5 separate regions of the Homo sapiens genome follow, and all the other regions are linked to region 1. Evidence: fine-mapped expression QTL. A gene starts in region 1. Each other region holds a variant in brackets. All regions are shown on one strand. Distances are between the middles of the regions. Region 1 holds the start of RAB11FIP4 (RAB11 family interacting protein 4). Region 2 overlaps RAB11FIP4 (RAB11 family interacting protein 4). Region 3 overlaps RAB11FIP4 (RAB11 family interacting protein 4). Region 4 overlaps RAB11FIP4 (RAB11 family interacting protein 4). Region 5 overlaps RAB11FIP4 (RAB11 family interacting protein 4).

The links. PIP is the estimated chance that this variant, and not a neighbour inherited with it, causes the effect. A credible set is the group of variants that fine-mapping cannot tell apart.
Region 2: its variant is the best candidate, but not a certain one, in a credible set for the expression of RAB11FIP4 in whole blood (Lepik 2017, PIP 0.71).
Region 3: its variant is the best candidate, but not a certain one, in a credible set for the expression of RAB11FIP4 in blood mononuclear cells (TOPMed, PIP 0.61).
Region 4: its variant is the best candidate, but not a certain one, in a credible set for the expression of RAB11FIP4 in thyroid (GTEx, PIP 0.86).
Region 5: its variant is the best candidate, but not a certain one, in a credible set for the expression of RAB11FIP4 in whole blood (INTERVAL, PIP 0.79).

What each region holds. Positions count from the first base shown.
Region 1 is chr17:31,389,500-31,393,615 of GRCh38, reverse strand. RAB11FIP4 (RAB11 family interacting protein 4) reads right to left here and starts at 1,941. Exons shown (of 15, transcript NM_032932.6): 1 at 1,605-1,941. The coding sequence starts at 1,763. RefSeq lists an enhancer at 2,137-2,726.
Region 2 is chr17:31,481,748-31,485,863 of GRCh38, reverse strand. The region is part of intron 3 of RAB11FIP4 (RAB11 family interacting protein 4); the gene reads right to left. Among named protein-coding and RNA genes, the nearest start is that of MIR4724, 51 kb to the left of the region's middle. The variant A/G (reference allele first, on the strand shown) is at 1,595.
Region 3 is chr17:31,475,379-31,479,494 of GRCh38, reverse strand. All of the region lies in intron 3 of RAB11FIP4 (RAB11 family interacting protein 4), which reads right to left. Among named protein-coding and RNA genes, the nearest start is that of MIR4724, 57 kb to the left of the region's middle. RefSeq lists an enhancer at 2,352-3,168. The variant A/G (reference allele first, on the strand shown) is at 1,620.
Region 4 is chr17:31,498,799-31,502,914 of GRCh38, reverse strand. All of the region lies in intron 3 of RAB11FIP4 (RAB11 family interacting protein 4), which reads right to left. Among named protein-coding and RNA genes, the nearest start is that of MIR4724, 34 kb to the left of the region's middle. RefSeq lists enhancers at 2,081-3,040, 3,041-4,002. The variant C/T (reference allele first, on the strand shown) is at 2,504.
Region 5 is chr17:31,493,019-31,497,134 of GRCh38, reverse strand. The region is part of intron 3 of RAB11FIP4 (RAB11 family interacting protein 4); the gene reads right to left. Among named protein-coding and RNA genes, the nearest start is that of MIR4724, 40 kb to the left of the region's middle. The variant A/TA (reference allele first, on the strand shown) is at 2,487.

The DNA.
Region 1 (4,116 bases):
AAGTGACAAGCAGGTCTGTCTCTAGAGTGTATGAGGGAGAAGGTTCTAATGGCAGGAACTGTCCAGCTGGGGGAGAAGTGGGTGAGGCTTGCTGGGCACGTGGCTGAGGCCGGTGGCCCCTGCCAGAGGTTGTTGGGAGGCCCTTCCCACTACTGAGGCTCTGAGTTCGGGGACTCCAGGTTTCAGCCAGAGCTGGTAGCTTCTTTACCCGACCTGCAGTCTGTGTTCTGAGAGGAAGGAGCGCGACTATCCCCATGCCAGGAGTCTGCTCAGCCTGCCCCAGATGGGAGCCACTGGAAAAACGGAAGGGCTTGGCTGGCCTTTGGGGAAGAAGGGTCATGGTGGCAGCAGGCAGTGTCCCTCAGCAAAGCCCCGCAGAGGGCAGTCTGGGCTCTCACAGGCACTGCAGTGGTCTTTCCTGTGGTGGGTACCTGAGTTCTCAAGCCCTGAAGCTGCCTCACTCTCTTCTGCCCACAGCTCTCAGCGACTCACAAGTCCCGGCCCATGCCCAGGTGCGGGTGGAGAGATGATTCTCAATCGCCTCCCACTCTCTGGTGACGCAGAGGCACGGGCCCAACCTGGCCATCACCCAGCTTCTCCCATGTTCTGAAATGCCTGGTCCGACCTGTTCTGGGAACACAATGCCAGCCAGTGCCCATTTGAGGCCCATGGCCCCAGGCCCCCCATGCAGGGCCTGAGGCCTTAGATGGCCTTGGAAACCCACTTCTCAGGGCTTTTGGCTCCAGGGGAAACCCCTGACCATTTCAGCCAGGTGGGTGTCTTGTCCTCCCCTTGAGACACAGTCCCCAGTCCCCATGCCGGTGGCACCAGAGGACACTGGTGTAGTGTGCGTTTAGTGATATGACTCCGTCCACCCTACTGGCGGCACCGACCCTCCGCTTCCAGCCCTGTTAACAATCTACGTAAGTCCTGCTTTCCCCAAATAGATGCGGCCCCGCCACATGAAAGCCCTCTGCTCAGCCACCACTCCCCGAGCCTGGCTTTGCCTGGCCTGCTGCAACCAACACAGCCAGCTGCCAGCCTGGCTGCCCAGCAGAGCCTGAATGAGAGGTCACCCGACACTGGCCCGGGAGTACACGGTGGCCCCAGCAGACACCTCCTTCCGTGTCTGGGCAGGGTGTGTGCAGCCGAGGAGCCAAGGCTGCAGAGCACCCCTACCGGTCCCTTTCACCCCCTGGCCCGGCCCAGCAGGACGTACACAGACCCTTGCATCTTGGTCTCCGCAGCGCCGGGTGGGGTGGGGAGCCTAGGGCCGGATTCTGGCAGCTCTCTCCCCCAGACAAGGGTGGATGTGCAGACCGCTCAGAAGGACCTGCATGGCCGAGGAAGGAAGGTGGGCGCAGAAGCCACCCTAGGCGTGACGCGTGACGCTCGGGGCACGGGCGCCGGGGGGCGGAAAGCGAGGGCCCGGCTGGGCCAGGGATACCCGGGGGGGGCCGAGGTCCTGGGCTCCGGCGGAGGGAGGGGATTGGGAGGGAGGCCACCGCCTCGGGCCACGCGGGTGACCCGGCGGGGGAGCTGGGGGAGGGGCGGCGGGGCTGGGCTGGGGTCCCCGGGCCGGGACTGGGGTCGGGCCAGCTTACCTCCTCGCCCTGGCCGAAGCGCAGTCCGAGCGCCGCGACGCGCTCCACGCGCAGGAAGCCGTCGGGGTCGCGGCCGCACACCTCGAACACCTCGCGCAGGCGGCGCACGGAGCGCAGCAGAGCCGCGGGGGCGCCCGACCAGCCCGCGCCGCCCGCCATCCGGGCCGGCCCGCAGCTCAGCCCGGACCCCTCGCCCGCCGCGCCCGCCGCCTGCCCGCCGCCGCCATCGCCGCGCGCCCTCCGGGGCCGCCCGTCTGGGTCTGCGCCGCGCAGCCTCCGCCCGGTGGCGGCCGCGGCCGATCCGTGTCAGCAGCGGCGCCGCAGCCCCAGCCGCTCCGGAGGGGAAGGGAGGGGAGGGGAGGGAAGGAGAAGAGTGGGGAGGGGAAGGAGGAGGGGCAATAGGGGGCGGGGAGGGGAGGGGCGGGGGCCGCGGCGAAAATGGGAGGGAGAGGGGGAGGCGGCGGGGGCGGCGGCGGCGGGGACGCTGCAGACAAAAGGAGCCCGCGTCCTCCCGAGTGGGGCGGCCCACGCGGGGCCGGCAGGCGCAGCGAGCTGCCAACGGCCGCGTCCTCCGCGACCTCAGTTTCCCTCCGCGTCCCCAGTTTCCCTCCGCGTCCCCGAGCCCACCCCTTCCTCTGGACACCCGGAGCCACCCAAAGGCCCTGCCCTGCCGGAGGATTCCGCGGGGTCGCGCCCCTTTCCGCTATCCGTGCCCGCTGCCGCGCCTGGCGTCTCCCGAGCGCTCAGGATGTCCTGGGGGCCTCCTGCATTGGCGCGTTCCGTGACTGCATTCATCCCGGAGGAAGCTGAGGCCCAGAGAGGTCGGACTCACTCTAGGCCACACAGCTGGCAAGAGGCAGGGCCGGGATTCGCTGCCATCTCTGGAGGGCTCTGGACTCCGTTCTTCACCTCCGCCCTGCGGTCTCCCGGCGCTCTCCTGCAAGACAGCACTTGTGGGGCCATCGGGCGGGGGAGGGCACAGAGAGGAGGAGCAGGCAACTGAACCCCAGCCTGGACCCGGGACCCTGCGACGGGGAGATGAGGAGAAAACCAGGATGAGGCCGGAGGGAGGAAAAGCGAGGCGCTTCCAGAGGCCTGCCTGTTCAGGGCCCAAGGCTGCTCCACGCCTGGAAGAGGCTTCCTCCCTTTCGCCGGGTTCCCACCATCACACCTCCCTGGCAGCCCGCATGCCCCAAGCTCAGAGAATCCAGGACAGAATCTCTGTCCCGCTGGCCGCAGGCTCTAGGTCAGGACCCTGGCCTCCTCCCATTAGTGCTCAGCGGAGCCTCCACCCCAGCTTGTGCTAACTTCCCAGCCCAGCCTCGGGGCCCTGCAGGACCCGGCCGGGCTCTTCTCTCCACCTTCTTGCTCGGCACATCAGGTCTTTGTGGCAACGACTGGCCCCAACCCAAAAAAAGGCCTTGGCTGAGTCTACTCCCACCTATGCTGTCATGCTCAGCACAGAGGTTTCCTCCTCCGGGAAGGCTTCTCTGATGGCACGCCATCTTATCTTCTATTCTGAGTTCTAAGCCCTTCTTCCAGGTGCCCAGTTAATTCTTAATTCTCTAGTGGGATGCCCATTTCCCCTACCATGCTGGGAAGCCCTCCAGGGCAAGATATGTCTTAATTACCTTCAAGTCCCTGATCTCCAGGCAAGAGTGGGCCCAGAGGAAGCCCCACCCAGAGGGGATGGGCCCGCCCATTATGTGAGGAGCCGGGAGCAACGTAGTGGCGCAGACAGGGAGTACGGGGTGAACTGCATGGCCTCCCCTAGCTGGGCCTCGGTTTGTACCTCTGTGGTCTTCCTGCTCAACCCTGAATATATCCTGCGCAGGGACTGCCATTTGCCTTCTGACAGTGGGCGGGGACCTCTTCTTTCCAGCCCCGGCTCCTGGGATGAACCTGGCTTTTAGCTACTCTCCTTTGACCCTTCAGTTCGTCTGAGAGCCACGAAAGGCAACACCTCTTGGGAAGAGAGACCTGTGGTTCTGAGGATTGAGGAGTCCGAAATGTGAGAAAGCGGGAAAGGGGAGGCCGTGGGAGTGGAGTAGGGGTATTCGGCTGAGTAGGAGCGTCTCTGCTAGCTGGATGCCGCTCAGCAGGATACTAGCATATTTTAGCCGGTTTCCTCGCCTGTACCGTGAGGATAATAGTACCTTCCTTTTAGGGCAACTGAAGATGAGAGCGAATCTAAGCAATGCTGCTTTCCCCCGACCTACCCTGCAAAATGGAGGTGGAAGTGGAGAATAAGGACAAGCAGCTGGCTGGGAGAGACTGGCTGCTGGAGATCCAGCCAGCCCCCTGGCAAGGAGGTAGGGAGTGGAAGCTGGGGGCTGCTGCCTGCCCCTGGGACCCCGATATTAGTTCGTCCAAGGTCAGCTCGTGCCATTTTCTCTCACCCAAGGGGCTCAGCACAGAAAGGAGATGGCCAGGAGCTGGGGCTGCCCCCTGGTGGGGGCTGCAGAAATGGCTCTCCGCGCTCAGCCTGGCATTGAATGCCCCCTAACTGGGG
Region 2 (4,116 bases), 92 kb before region 1:
GAGTCTTATTTCCCAGATGTCTTGGGACAAGTTCTGTTACTTCTCTAAGACTCAATGTCTTCATCTGTAAGATGGGAATGGTACCTCACAGGATGTTGTACACCCTAGCACAGTGACTACACTTAATTTTAGGCACTCCTCAAAGGTGTGGTATGCGATTGAGCCCATGCACCCTGGGCCCACTCTATCTGCCTTCCCATCTCCACCCTGAGACCTTAAGCTCAGCAGTGTCCCAAAAGGTTTTAGGATGTGGCTGAGTCCAGGGGTTCTATCTTGGTTTCCCTTCTTCCCTTCCAAGTCCGATGTTGCCCCTAAGGATTATTAGGCTCAAAGCAGGTCACATGACAGGATCGTCCAGAACCAAGAAAGAAAAGCAGAAACCAAGGGTGATCATCCCTTCTCTGGTCGTGACTCTCTCCCAGAGAAGGTCAATGGAGAAAGTCAGGCCTGTCAAGCCCCCTCCCTGTCCCCACCATGGGCAGCCTGAGCGACATTTCTCAAGAGCTCTATGGAACGGGTGGTATCAGTAGGTCCTTCTTTATTTTTCTCAAAGGTAGTGGAGTGGGGAATGTCTGCAGGTACTTGTCCTTAAAAGCAGAGTGACAGAGAAAGGCCACAGATGCATTGAACACTCCTGGGTTTGAAGCCTGCCCGGTTCCACTTATCAAGGGAAGTCAATGTTTTGGAGCCTCAGTCTCTACCTCTAGAAAATGGAAATAAGACATTTCCTCTTGCAGTTGTGAAGTTTCAATGAAATGATAAAGTGTCTAGTGCAATGCCTAAGATGCTGCAGGTGCTCAATAAATGGCAGTTCCTAGTCACTACCAGCAGCATGAGTGAGCTGCAGTCTGACGCACTGGTTCTGTGCATGGGTGCCGGGGCCAAGGGCCATATCTTGGCTTTACCACCTTGTTGCTAAATGAACGTAGGCAAGTTTAAGTCCCAGTGTCTCAATTTCCTCATCTTTAAATTGGAGATAATAATAGTATGTATTTTAGAACTATTGTGAGGATCAAAATAATCAGGACCAGTAAAATACATAGAACAGAGCCTGGCACAGAGCAGGTAACCAATAAACAGTAGCTATTACTAATGATCATTATGGCAAGAGGCTGAGGGGAACAGAGGTGAGGATTAGAGGCAGCCTGAGGGAAAATTTAGGACCCTGACTTTTGAGGGAAGGGCTAACACTTTCCAGCAGGGTTCAGAGAAGCAATGATAGTCCAGTGGGGGGTGGGGTGGGGATGGTGACTGTATCTGATGGGTGAGATTAGACACAGGATGAATATGGGATCTGAGGGCTCTAACACAGGCTAGGATTCAGTGTCCTTGGTTCAAACGGGGGCTAAGAGTGAGTTAATAGGAAATATAATCCTGCCTTCTGAGCATAGCACCACCTATGAGGATGTGGGGAAGGAAGGTCTTGAGTTAGGTACCCTGGTCTCTTAGCATTACCTGTGAGGTTCCTTTTTTTTTTTAAAGAGACAATGTCAGGCCCGGCGCAGTGGCTCACTCCTGTAATCCCAGCACTTTGGGAGGCCGAGGCGGGCAGATCACCTGAGGTCAGGAATTCGAGACCAGCCTGGCCAACGTG[A/G]CGAAACCCTGTCTCTGCTAAAAATACAAAAATTAGCTGGGTGTAGTGGCGAGCGCTTGTAATCCCAGACACTCTGGAGGCTGAGGCAGGAGAATCACTTGAACCTGAGAGGTGGAGGTTGCAGTGAGCCAAGATTGTGCCACTGCACTCCAGCCTAGGTGACAGAGGAAGACTGTCTCAAAAAAAAAAAAAAAAAAAGATAAGATCTTGCTCTGTTGCCTAGGCTGAAGTGCCGTGGCACAATCATAGCTCACTGTAGCCTCAAACTCCTGGGCTCAAGCAATCCCCCCACCTCAGCTTCCCAAAATGCTGGGATTACAGGCATGAGCCACCATGCCTGGCCTCTCTGTGTCTATTTTCTTTCGCTGCCACCATGCAAGAGTTAGCTCAACATTGGATGGTGTAAAGAAGCAACATTCTGCACATGTTTGGGGCCATGTGGAACGACTGGCTAAATATATATATATATGGTTTCATGATCATTATTTTGAGAAAAGAACCCTTCTGAACATTACCTAATGTTAACATTAGCCAAGCAACTGATGCCAACCAATATTAGCCAAGTGAACAAACAACAGCTGACATAAATAGTATTGGAGCTAAAACAAAAAGTCTGGCAAGTTGTTCTCAAACTGAGTTTGTTGGAACCCTCAGGGTTCTGTGGAGACTTCGCAAAAGGGAAGATGTGCTCCAGGGGAACCACAAAAATAGCTCCACTTCTGTCTGCTGTACATGCTGTCTTCTGTATGAAACTTCATGTGAATAAAGGGTTCTATGGCTTTAAAAATATTTAAAATCACTGGTATAGTATAACCATTTCCCAGACAGGGGAATGAGCCCCAGAGGTGGGAAATGGCATCTCCCCTCACAAGTAGCACACTCAGTTAGTGGTGGAGCCAGGAGTAGAGCCAGGTTGCATTACTCTCAGTCTAGTGCTCTCCAAGGTGGACACCAGTCATTAATCAGGACTGTGAGCATCAGTCAAACCTGGTCCATCTTAGCAGGGCTTGATTCTGTCAACGCACACACAGAGGACATTCTTTCTTTACTTTTTTTTTTTTTTTTTTTTTTTTTTTTGAGATGCAGTCTCACTCTGTCACCCGGGCTGGAATGCAATGGCATGATCTCGGCTCACTGCAAACTCCGCCTCCAGGGTTCAAGCGATTCTCCTGCCTCAGCCTCCTGAGTAGCTGGGACTATAGGCGCATGACACCACGCCTGGCTAATTTTTGTATTTTTAGTAGAGACGGGGTTTCACCATGTTGGTCAGGATAGCCTCGAACTCCTGATCCCGTGATCCGCCCGCCTCGGCCTCCCAAAGTGCTGGGATTATGGGTGTGAGCCACTGCCCCCGGCCAGAGGACATTATTTCTGCCCAGCTGGGGCTCTATGTGTGGAAAAGCCCCCCTGGCAGCTGGCTAGGACTTTACCACAAGTACTTGTCCTCTCTCACCTCTCTCTCAGAGGTCCATTGACTCCACGCTCAGGAAGTTCAGCTACAACTCTTAAATCTCAGCTTTCATCCCAGGTGGTAAATTCAGTATTTGATGACTTAAGCAGTGGCTTAGGGAAGGGACTACCAAGCAAATAGGCAGGACTCTGAGACTGCAGAGGCCTCTTGACCCCAAAGGAAAGTCATTCCTAATTTTTTTTCTTTTCTTTTTTTTTTCTTTTTTTTTCTTTTAGAGTCTCCCTCTGTCGCCCAAGCTGGAGTGCAGTGGTGCGATCTTTGCTCACTGCAACCTCTGTCTCCTGGGTTCAGGTGATTCTTGTGCCTCCGCCTCCTGAGTAACTGAGATTACAGGCATATGCCACCACACTTAGCTAACTTTTTGTATTTTTAGTAGAGATGGGGTTTTGCTATGTTGGCCAGGCTAGTCTTGAACTGGCCTCAAGTGATCTGCCTGCCTCGGCCTCCCAAAGTGCTGGGATTACAGGCGTGAGCCACCGCACCTGGCCCCCAATTTTTTATTTAGAAAAAAAATGGGAATGACTCTTGGATCCAAAAGCCCTCTCTCGCCAGTGGGGATGTGTCTAGGGGTCTGCACTAAGCTGGCATCTTCTCTGACCACTCCTTCCTCTGCCTCTTCCCACCAAACCCAGTGAAGATGCAGGAGGCCTGGGTTCTGGGCTCTCCCTAACTTTTTGGGCCTCAGACTCCTCCCCTGGAAGAGCTTTTAGCTGGACAGCACATCTTTAGGTCTCTTCCAATTCTGCAACTCTGTGCCAGCCCAGGAGAGGATCTTGGACTGTGGAAACAAGGTGTTTCCCTTGGCAAACACTCCGGTGTTGGTGACTGTCCACTGGCCGGGATGATTTCACCAGCCTGCCCCCGGGGCTGGGTTCTCTTGTAACATCTGGCTGGATGCTGTGCAGACGGGGTGGGACCTGGTCTTATTGACTCTGGAGCCCAGGTTGAGTCTTCAGAAGCTCCAAGCTCTATTTGTGTCAACCTGTGCATGTATAAACAATGGGTTTTCTTACTCATTCAAGCTCAACGAAAGGGGGAAAATGGTGAGAAA
Region 3 (4,116 bases), 86 kb before region 1:
TTGGACTTAAGCTCCTAACATGTCTGGCACACAGTAATCACCTGGGGAATGGTTAGGGCCCTGAATGGGACTGAGAATCCCTCACCCACAGACAATGGAAAGCTGAGGACTTGATTTTTGAATTAGCGGAAGCCTTTTCTGAAGTTCCTGAGATGGGCATTTGAAAGGTGAGAGACCTTCTCAAGTCAGGCTGCCCTCTTCCCAGACACATCAGATCTCAACTCTGAAGAAACAATTCCTCTACCTAATGGGAACCTTGGACAAGGGCCCTGAAACCAAGGAGAGAACATTTCCCTGCAGCCTATTGTTGATAACAGCTATGTACTATGTGCCAGCCACTTCATTTCTTAATTTAATCCAACAATCTTGTAGAGTAGATGTTACTGCACTCATGAAACAAATAAGGAAACTGAGGCTCAAGAGGATTAAGTGGTGGCAGAGACAAGATTTGTACCCAGATCTGGCCCACGTTCAGGACTCCCTTCTGCCTCTCTTGTTGCATCACTGGCTTACTTACAGCAACCGGAATTGCCTGGGAAGCAGCAGAAACTAATTGGTAAGGATGATTGAAGACCATGAGCAATTAAAGGCCTCAAGTTCCTCTTCATCATCCTTGGGTTGCAGGTGTCTGCTGTCCAGCTCAGCAGTGTCTCAGTCAGTGGCAGCCCACATCAGGTGTCTATGATTTGCCACATGCACCTCTGCAGTCCTACCTGCTGGCTTAGAGCTGAGGACTGGCCACTACCTGCTGTTGACTTGGCTGCTGCCTCCTGCCCCAGTTCTAAGCCCAGGGAGATGCATCCTGCCATTTCCCTGGCTGCTACCAGATAAGCTAAGCAGTATGAGGCCAGGGCTCCAGGGAGGGAGGGAAGGAAGCAGTATTTGTTGTCTTCAAAGACGTGTTTTGTGGAAACCCCATCCCACTCTGATAGCAAGAAATTGATCTGTGGTCAAATCAGCCGGTGAAATTCTTCACTCCCTCTTGAAGATGTCACAGGCACCTCTGCAGGAGAGAAGCCTCCCTAGCTTTTAACCCCAGGCTTCCTTAAGGCAACTGGGCTTGGACAGGACCCTTCTTATTTAACATTTAACAACACAAGGGATCAGTGTTCTGAGAAGAGCACACCTGGGCAAACAATGCACCAGGCTCCCAACACGCGCGGAAGGCAGACGTTATGTTCATCTTAAAGGTATTTACAGCTGGCCAGGCACGGTGGCTCATGCCTGTAATCCCAGCACTTTGGGAGACCAAGGCGGGTGAATCATTTGAGGTCAAGAGTTCGAGACCAGCCTGGCCAACATAGTGAAACCCCGTCTCTACTAAAAATACAAAAATTAGCCAGGTGTGGTGGTGGTCGCCTATAATCCCAGCTACTCAGGAAGCTGAGGCAGGGGAATCGCTTGAACCCAGGAGGTGGAGGTTGCAGTGAGCCGAGATCTAGCCACTGCACTCCAGCCTGGGTGACAGAGACTCTGTCTCAAAAAAAAAAAAAAAAAAGTATTAACAGCAAATGGCCACATAGCACTTAATATATACAAGCTCCGTTCTAGTGCTTCACATGATATGAGCTCATTTAATCCTCCCGACAACCCTACGAGGCAGGTATTATCCCCATTTT[A/G]CAGATGGGGAAACTGAGGCTCAGAGAGGTTACTCAAGGACATACAGCTAGTAAGTTGAGAGCCAGGAGTCAAACCCAGGCAGCCTGGCTCCAGAGACTGTGCACCTAGCCGTTATCCTATGTAAAAAAGAGAGGCTCGGTTTTGTATAATAAAATAACTTCCCCAAAGTAACCATCATAGAACCAAGACCATTCATTCATTCACCCCGTCATTCATTTACTCAAACAAGAATCACTGAGCAGAAACCGCAGGCCAGACCTAGTGCTGGCCACCCAGAGACCAAGGAAGAACAAGGTGCAGCCTTGCTGTGGACCTGCCGGCTGCCTGTCCAGGCGCCTCTGACGCCCGCGCTGCTCTTCTCCCCACAGCTTGTCTGGGGACCTGGGGCTCTGCTGTCAGCTTCGCACCCTCCCAGCCGTGGCTTCTCATCTATATCTGATGGGTCAAGGAGGGTGGGCGGGGAGCACCCAGCTTCTCCCCAAGCCCAGGCTCCTTCCTCAGCCCCACAGGGGAGCACTGAGCCCCCCACCAGGTAAGTGCCCCCTCCTCACAGTCGTGTGGTTGCTCCCTGCCTGAGGAACACTCCAGGTGGCAGCCATTAGTCTCAGATTTAGCGGCCTCCTGAGAGGCGGGATGACAGTGGACGATGACGACTCTGAGTCTGTTCTGGGGTTGGAAGGACACACACTGAAGGGCTTGTAACTCCACTCTGAAAGCAGAGTCCCCCGCAATTGTCTCCTAAATTATCTCAGTGATGCTGGGATGAAGAAGTATCCCAAACCACAACACGCAAGCTACCCCACAAAAGACAGAAGAAGGGCTGCAGACTCTGCCCTGTGGAGAAGGTGGTGGGGCTGGGGAGAGGGCGGCTCCCTGGGGCCTGCCCAAGTTTATCCCCTGAATAAACAGGAGGCCACAGCAGACCGGATGGGCTGGTGTCGGGAGACTGGCTGGCCTCCGTGCTCAGTCACAGATGCCTCCTTTGTGCCTCCCCTGCCAGGGCTGGGCTGGGCAAAGGAAAACCAAAGGTGCCCGGCCTCTGGACACGGAGCCACTGTTCCACCCACTTAGGGGAAAACCACGGCCCAGCAACAGCTCTGTGGCTGCAGCCCAGGAGGGCTGAAGGAGCTTCTGTGTTCACGTAGAAACTGGAGAGGCCAGTGCAGTGGGGAGGCAGGCTGCTCATGGGGTGCCCTAAAAAAGAAACCTTTCTTCCAGGCCAGGTCCCCTGTGGTCCCCACTGGATCACAAGGCCACATTCATGGGGTGAAGCCCCCTAGTGCCCCACCAGCCCAGGTTTCAGCCCCAGCTCTGCTATTACTACCTGTAGCTCGTCTAGTCTCTTAGCCTTGGTTTCTTATGTGACCAACAGAGTTAATAGTACACACGAGGCCAGGCACGGTGGCTCACACCTATAATCCCAGCACTTTGGGAGCCCGAGGTGGGTGGATCCCTTGAGGTTAGGAGTTTGAGACCAGCCTGGCCAACATGGTGAAATCCCGTCTCTACTAAAAATACAAACATTAGCTGGGCGTGATGGCACGTGCCTGTAATCCCAGCTACTTGGGAGGCTGAGGCAGGAGAATCACTTGAACCCAGGAGGCAGACATTGCAGTGAGCCAAGATTGCACCACTGCACTCCAGCCTGGGTGACAGAGGAGGACACCGTATCAAAAAAAAAAAAAAAAAAAAAAAAAAAAAAGTTCAGTCGATTCTCATTATTTGCAGTAGTTATGCTCTATGAAGTCACTACAAACACAGAATCGTGAATACTGAACCATTGCCCCTAGGGGAAATACTGGTTCAATTCCTGTGAGCCTCTGATCACAACATTTTCATCAAACGATCAATGCATAACCTTGTTTTAAGCATGTCTCTGTTTAAAGACACTATATTTAATACATATTGTTGATTCATTAACATTGAACTCACTGTAGCTCATGCCTGGGCAAAGCTTATCTAACACTCAGTCGTTATTTTCTCCACAAGGCACGTCCCAGCCTTCTTGCATTTAGGAACACTAGACAGCCTTTGGGGGCCATTTCAAATAGCAAAATCGCCAAAAAAAAAAAAAACCACACAAAAATGCAGAAAACGTGGCACTAACTAGACCGTGAAGAGGACACTTGTTTACAGTATGAGAGCTGAAACAAGAAGGCCGCTTGTCGCCTTGTTTGACCTCAGCTGGGAACATGCACGTTGGGCAACTCACATCTTCACCACCGTGAGAATGTTTGCAAATGATCACAAAGGCTCTGCGAGTATTGATTTTGGTGTTACAAATGAATTTCAGCAAGCAGGCAAATTTGCAAATACAGAATGTGCAAGTAATAAGGACCAACTGTATCTGTGTCACAGGGGTTTTGAGGGATGGCTTGTTAAATGAAAGAATGCACGACGAATGCTTAAGCGTAGCAACAGCTCACATCTTTTTACTGTAACTAGTATTATTTGCTGAACCTACCACGTCTTGACAGCTTAGAATGTCTTTCTTTG
Region 4 (4,116 bases), 110 kb before region 1:
TGTGACGACACAGGGAGAAGATGGCTGTCTGCAAGCCAAGGAGAGAGGACTCAGAAGAAACCAAGCCTGCTGACACCTTGATGCTAGACTTCAGCCTCCAGAATTGTGATAAAACACACTTTGGTTGTTTACGCCACGCAGTCTGTGGTCCTTTGCTATGACAGCCGTAGCAGACCAATAGACCAATATACCAATATCCCTTCTCCTCCCCTAGGAAGGCTTCATGGAAACCCCAACCCAAGCTCAGTCTGGATTTTTCGCCCACCTTCTCACCCTGATAACAAAAGAGAACTTTTTAAAGGTCAATTCAATTCAACCTTTATTTTTTTATTTTTTGAGATACAGTCTTGCTCTGTCACCCAGGCTGGAGTACAGTGGCACAATCTCAGCTCACTGCAACCTCTGTCTCTTGGGTTCAAGCAATTCTCCTGCCTCAGCCTCCCAAGTAGCTGGGATTACAGGTGCCCACCAGCACGCCCAGCTAATTTTTGTATTTTTAGTAGAGATGGGGTTTCACCATATTGGCCAGGCTGGTCTTGAACTCCTGACCTCAAGTGATCTACCTACCTCAGCTTCCCAAAGTGCTAGGATTACAGGTGTGAGCCACCTCGCCCAGCCAATTCAACCTTTAAAGAGAACTACAGATGGTCCTCAACTTACAATGGTTTGACTTACAATTTTTTTTTTTTTTGAGACAAGGTATCGCTCTGTCAACCAGGCCAGAGTGCGATGGCACCATCTCAGCTCACTGCAACACCCCCCTCCTGGGTTCAAGTGATTCTCCTGCCTCAGCCTCCCAAATAGCTGGGATTACAGGTGCCCACCACCACGCCTGGCTAATTTTTGTATTTTCAGTACAGATGGGGTTTTGGCATGTTGTCCAGGCTAGTCTCAAACTCCTGGCCTCAAGTGATGCAGCCAGCCACCTTGGCCTCCCAACGTGCTGGGATTACAGGCCACCGTGAGCCACTATGCCCGGGCTCACTTTGATTTTTCAACTGTATGATGGTGCAAAGTGATCCACAGTCAGTAGAAGTCATACTTCAAGTACCCATAAGAGCATTGTCTTTCACTTTCAGCATAGTACTTAATAAATTGCGTGGGATGGGCTGGGTGCGGTGGATTACACCCAGCACTTTGGGAGGCCGAGGCGGGCGGATCACGAGGTCAGGAGATTGAGACCATGGTGAAACCCCATCTCTACTAAAAATACAAAAAATTAGCTGGGCGTGGTGGCGGGCGCCTGTAGTCCCAGCTACTTGGGAGGCTGAGGCAGGAGAATGGCGTGAACCCGGAAGGCGGAGCTTGCAGTGAGCCGAGATCGCGCCACTGCACTCCATCCTGGGCAACAGAGCCAGACTCCATCTCAAAGAAAAACCAAACCAAACCAAATCAAACAAAACAACAACAACAAAAAATAAATTGCGTGGGACATAAAACACTTTATTGTAAAACAAGCTCTGTGTTAGATGATTTTGCCCAACTGTAGGCTAAAGTAAGTGTTTGGGCACATTTAAGGTAGCCTAGGCTAAGCTATGGTGTTTGGTAGGTGAGATGTATTAAACGCATTTTTTTCTTTTTTTTTTTTTAACTTATGATACTTCCAATATACAATGGGTTTATCAGGACGTAACCCCATCAAGGAGCATCTGTAACTGGATTTCCAGAACCTACTCAAGAGACTCAGGGATTTATTTTTGGTCTGTCCTAAAAAAAAAAAAAAGTTGTATTCTCTTATTCTCTTTCACGATTAGTTTGAAATACTGCTACTTCTTAAGAGATGATATTTTGTTGAAATCAAAGCTTGGTGAATCTATGATTATCAGGATGGCATTCTATAAACACTATATGCCAATCTAAGTAAGTTATTTCCATTTTCTTTTTTTTTTTTTTGAGATGGAGTCTCACTCTGTCACCAGGCTGGAGTGCAGTGGCACGATCTCGGCTCATTGCAACCTCTGCCTCCCGAGTTCAAGCGACTCTCCTGCCTCAGCCTCCTGAGTAGCTGGGACTACAGGCGCGTGCCATCACACCCAGCTAATTTTTGTATTTTTAGTAGAGACGGGGTTTCACCATGTTGGCCAGGATGGTCTCGATCTCTTGACCTCGTGATCTGCCCGCCTCAGCCTCCCAAAGTGCTGGGATTACAGGCATGAGCCACCATGCCCAGCCACTTCCATTTTCTTGTGCATTCTCTCAGTAGTATAAGTATTCTATTTCAATTTCAGAGAAGCATATGCACAGTTCAGAGACGTTAGAATTGCAAAGGCAATTTTTGTTTGCCCAAAACTGTATTTAGTATAGTTATAAGACAAATGTAAAAGGTATTTTACCTACACAGCGATTGCTTTACAAGAGAATAAATCAGCAGTTAGCCCTGGAGCCACAGGCCCTCACACAAGGAGCCTTTTATCCTGGGTCAGGCTGCCTCTGTGACCAGCAGCGCTCAGTAACTGAACAAGATATTACCAGTTTCTCCGTGCCAGACAGTATTTCTGGCTAC[C/T]TGACATCTGGAGCATTTTCCTCCCTCTGTTGTGGTCAGTGTGGGAAGGAGGGCCGCTACTGCCCCCGGGACACGTGGGCACCCTGCTCAGAGGGACGCCAGCTGGCCTGTGACATGGCCCAAACCCGAGCCCCACCCCCGCCACTCCACAGCGGTCTAGAGCTGGTTTGTAACCAAGGTGCAGCTGAATTTAGCTCAGTGAATCATCTCCAAGGAAAACCCACAGAGAAAGTGAACTCACCTTTTAACCAAGTCCTGGATGGGGTGTGACTGTCCCAAGAATGCCCTGGGTCCCAGATCTGAGTGCCCCAGTAAGCCCATTTCCTAAACAAAAAGGGTTTGAAGAGGCTATCTAGCCTACCCTCTGCCCTGCAAACAGAGCCAACGGCCTTGATTTTCAAATGAGAATGTGGACTTCGGAGGCAAACTGTTGGGGATTAAGAAAACAGAACTTAAATTGCTTCCACATCTGGAAAACAAACCCAGCAGCCAGCCCCAAGAATTCCAGGCATGCCAGCTCAAAGAGAAGCTGCAGGTCAGGGGAGGCTTTTCCTCTTAGCTTTCAGTCCCCCATCACCTACCTGAAGCCACAAAGATCTCCTGTCTACAAATAGCTAGTGGAGCCACAACTCAGAGAAAGAGAACAAAGTTGACATACTAGGGCGCCTACCATGTGGCCAGTCTGCTCTGTGCTTTACAGAGGTGGTAAACTCCCTGCAAGTAATTATCATTTTCCTCCTTATAGATGGGGAAATGTGGCCAGGTGCGGTGGCTCATGCCTGTAATCCCAGCACTTTGGGAGGCCGAGACGGGCGGATCACGAGGTCAGGAGATTGAGACCATCCTGGTCAACATGGTGAAACCCCATCTCTACTAAAAAATACAAAAATTAGCTGGACACGGTGGCACGTGCCTGTAATCCCAGCTACTCGGGAGGCGGAGGCAGGAGAATCGCTTGAACCAGGGAGTAGGAGGTTGCAGTGAGCTGAGACTGTGCCACTGTACTCCAGCCTGGCGACAGAGTGAAACTCTATCTAAAAAAAAAGAAGAAAGAAAGGAAGAAGGAAAAGAAAAAGTGGGGGAATGGTGTCCAGAGAGTCTCATCCACTTTCCCCTGAAGTATCCTGCAGTTTTTCTCTTTACTCCCCTTTGGAGTCACACAAAAAGTTGGGGCCATGCAAACCCAAATCAGGAGTTCCCTAATTTAAATCGTCCCATCTAAATTCTCAGAAAAGATTTCCCAAATGCCTACCGGAAGCTCCAGTTCCCATGCAGCCACTGCATCTCTGGTTCCCCCAAGAAAAGCATGGACCAGAGGTCCCAGCAACTCAACTCAAAAGCGAAGTAACGTGCTGCAGTTGAATGGGGTGCGTATAAAGGGCTCTCCTGGTTCTTGGAACGGGCAGCTATTTTTTGCTACAAATTATAGCTTTTCAAGATGTGGCTTTTTGAAGAGAGGGCTTAATTACTCACACAACCAAGAGTCTGTGGGGCTTGCTTTGGGGGCTCCATACTTTACCATCATGATAAGAGGAGCGATGATAAAAACACTTCACTCAAAGTGAAGGTTTGGGAGGGAAAACAGTGGCTCAGGCCAGCTCTTTCTTCTCGTA
Region 5 (4,116 bases), 100 kb before region 1:
GCGTTGGCCTCCCAAAGTGCTGGGATTACAGGCATGAACCATCGTGCCTGTCCACAAAGGGGTCTTAAACATTTGAGAACAAGGAAAGCACGCATCTGCTAAGCACCTATTGTGTGCCAGGTATTTCTGTGCATCAGCCACTATTTAGATGAGAATACACAGGTTCAAGGAGGTTAAGTAATTCGTGAAAGGTCGCAGGGCTGGGATTTGAACCAGGTCTGATTTTAACGCAGCAAGGAGGGTACAGAGAATACCAAATGCTCTCAGCGATGCGACATCCAGCACCCCATGGACAACACTGTGCACTGGAGTGGACTCAGGCTGACCCTGCAGCCACAGGAATGGCAGTTAGCAACGCTGATGGTACCAGAACTTGGACTTGAGCTGAAGCTTGCAGGGACCACAGCACACTGGGCTTCTGAGGTCTGTGCCATCCAGGCCATCAGGCAGAGCCCTCCTCCCCTTTCCCACCCCAGGGAGCTTCAAAGAGGCTACATGTGGGAAGACTTTACAGAAAGGGAGAGGAGAGATTTGAAAGAAAATTGCTAAAAGGAAACACATGTGAAAATGAAAACTCAGGCAAAGGGGGAGAAGGACGAGGGAAGAAGAGTAATGTCCAAGGATTATAAACTGAGTCAAGAAGCCCTTGGAACACCAGTTTCCCTCTGCTCCCTTGGGAAGGCCAGTGACCCACTCCCAGCCCTCATTTTCCCTCTTAACCCAGATGGAACGGGGCAGACCTTAGATGATACCCAGCAAGAGAAACAGGGAATGTTGCCTTGCACACAGCCATGACAACTGTGGAGCCACGATTCATATGTGGTGGGAGGAAAATCCCGAGGCTCAGAGAGGTCGCTCTACTTTGCCAAGGCCACACAGCTGGCGAGCCATAAAGCTGGAATCTAAGCCCAATCCAAGGTTGTCCCCTTGAACCACATCAGGGTCCCCTCATATAATCTGCCACCACTACAAGGTGGCTCCACCTGCATCCTTGGAGGAACTGGACAAATTATATAAGTTCCCCAGAGGTTACCTAGTTTCTATTTCATTAAATCTGAGACACCTCTGATTTTACAATGCACCGTTATTTCAAGTATGCCAAGAAAAAGGCGCTGTCAAATTATAATAATCCGCAAATGTGCGACACATTCCAATTTAAGATGTTAAATGGAAAAAAAGGAAAGGAAAAAAAGAATGTGCCTTAGAATCCCAGAAAATACCATGTAAGTGTGAGTAGGGAACAGGGATTCAGTCACAGTTCCGCAGACTGTGTGTGTGCAGTGAAGGGCAGTCAACAACTCCACACAAGCACATGAGCACACACCTGCTGCTATAAAATCCTTCTTTGCTAATAACTGATGCAATCGTGCAGATAATCATACAAAAATGTGTTGGCCAGACCTGCCTTGTCAACAAGAACCCTCATTTCACCAGGAGACCATCAATTCAAGGTTGCCTAACATCAGTCAGACGAGTCAAGCATGGTGGCTCATGCCTGTAATTCCAGCACTTTGGGAGGCCAAGGTGGAAGGATTGCTTGCGCCTAGAAGTTTGAGACCAGCATGGGTGACATAGTGAGACCTCATCTCTACCAAATGAATAAATAGCCGGGAGTGGTGGTGCACCCAGCTACTCAGGCAGCTGAGGTGGGAGGATCACTTGAGCCCAGGAGGTCGAGGCTACAGTGAGCCAAGATTGTATCGCTGCACTCTAGCCTGGGCAGAAATGCGAAACCCTGTCTCAAAAAAAAAAAAAAAAAAAAAAAAAATCAGTCAAGTGGAGGCTGTCCTGCCCACCTAACCAGCCAGGCTAGGCCAGGCTAGCCAGCTTCGCCTGAGTGGAGCTATAGACCTCTGGGCAGCCAAGCTGGATGACTCTGTGGTTAACTACCAAGGGCAGTCACCCAGTGTGGCTGGGCGGTGGCACAGCCTGCACCTTTTTGTCTGGCTTTTCTCCAAATCTCCTGGGGCTTGTGGCCAGCCAGAGCCTCAGCATTTTAATAAGGCAGATGCTGGGGGCTGGCAGTGGCAGATGGGCAGCACTGCTCCAAGCCAGCTTTTCCAGCTAGGCACAGGTGGATGGACAGGCAGGCCCTGGCTGGAGGTGAAGGGCAGGTGGGCCGAGGTGTGGAGGGCCATCCTCCCCTTGGCAGGCCAGCCACAGCCTGGCAGTGTGAGCAGCCTCTGGAAGGACAGGCTAGGTACAGTCTCCCTCACTGAACCTGGGGAGAAGTCTGTTACCTCGGAAGCTGCTTGACATCTCATTCACAGACTGCCACACAAATGCTAGTCACTTCACCCCAGACCCAGAATCTGTATCTGCAGAGCCCGAGCAAGGTTTGTTAAAAACACAGAAGCTGGCTGGGTGCAGAGGCTCATGCCTGTAATCCCAGCACTTTGGGGGGCCGCGGTGGGAGGATCACCTGAGGGCAGGAATTCGAGATCAGCCTGGGTAACATAGTAACACCTCATTTCTACTTTTTTTTT[A/TA]AAAAAATTAAAATTAAAATTGAAAAAAAAGATTTAAAAACCCACAGAAGCTGAGGAAGTAGAGTTTTGCTTCTCTTGCAAAGGCCCTTGAGTAATGGAGTTTTTCCGCTGCCACCTTCCTGTTTGGGCCATGACACTCCCCGGCAAGACATTCTGTTAGGTGCGAAGGTTATTAGTCACAACAATCAAACCAGCTGAAGCCTGCAGGAACTAAGAATAACAGCTCACCCCAAAGCACAGTTTTAAGTGCTTTTCATACATTTACATATTTGAGCCTTACCACGAACCCTGTGAGGGAGGTACTAGCCTCATCCTCTTACCACGAACCCTGTGAGGGAGGTACTAGCCTCATCCTCGTTTTACAGGTGGGGAAGCTGAGGCACAGAGAAATTAAATAACTTGTCTAAGATTCCACCAATAGCAAGGGGCAGAGCCAGGATCTGAACCCAGAGACAGCCTGACTCTGAAGGCATTTTGGTACTAAACTGGCCTGCCTCTCTAACCATCTAACCGTCCACGAGTGTCAACTAAGTAAAGGCCAGAACCTAGACTGGGCATCTTAAATCACCATGGCTCATTTTATTTTCACCATCACCCTGCGAGGCAGGTGCTATTATCAACCCCATTCTACCTGTTGGGCACCCCAACCCTCAGCCACCCCAAAGCAGGGGGGTGGATGAACAGGATGCCCCATCTGAATGCTGCCTGACACGCAAACACACACGTGTGTGCACACACACATATACGATCTGGGGCCCTAAACTGGACAGACTAAACCCAAAGCTGCTGCCCAAATGTGGGAGTGACTCCCTGGGGTCCTTAGGACCCCACAGAACCATGCTGCTGCCTGCCCACAGGCAGAGGGAGTGAAGAGTGAGGCCAGGGAAAGTGAAATCAGAAGGGTGAGGTCGCCTGTCCAAAGTTCCACAACTAGCGAGCAACAGAGCCAGGATCTAGACCTAGAAGTTTTCTGGCGCCCATTTTTTCTCCTTAAGGAAACAGGCATTGGGTGACAAAGCGTGGGATGCAGGTGTCTGTGTCTTAGGTAGGCATTTCTTCCAGGAAAACGAGGGAGCAGGGGGCAGGGACTTGCTGCTATTCTCGCTCCTATTCTAGGAGGGAGACTTGAGTCTGGTGCAGAGGGTAGACACCCCTCAGCTCCCTTACCCCAAGTTCACCGGAGCAGCAGCAGCTATTTGAAATGTGGGTTCCCTTTCCATGGTATCAGGCTTGCACAGCGCAGGGGGGTGGGGGGTGACCACAGATGACTAAAGAGAGAGAGCCCGCCCACTCTCCCACACTCCAGTTCTGTTTAGGCCTTCCTCTTTCTGGTACCTCAAAAGAGAAAGGCTCCCATGAGCAGAGCCACAGATATTAATAACTTCTACAGAGCTTTGTTTTCATCTGAATTAATGTTTACATTGTTGGGAAAGAACCCACTTGTCTGGGAAGATGAAGCAGGTTAGATCAATTAAAAATGTGACCAACAGTTGGAAAACTTCCCATTTCTTAAGGTCAGTCAAGAAGTGGGTTTGGAAGTGCTGGCATGACTAGCACTGGCCTGCTGGGCGGTTCTGGGCTGGAGGTCACTCAGACCCCACAGCTCTGGGCCATCACAGCCACCCCTCTG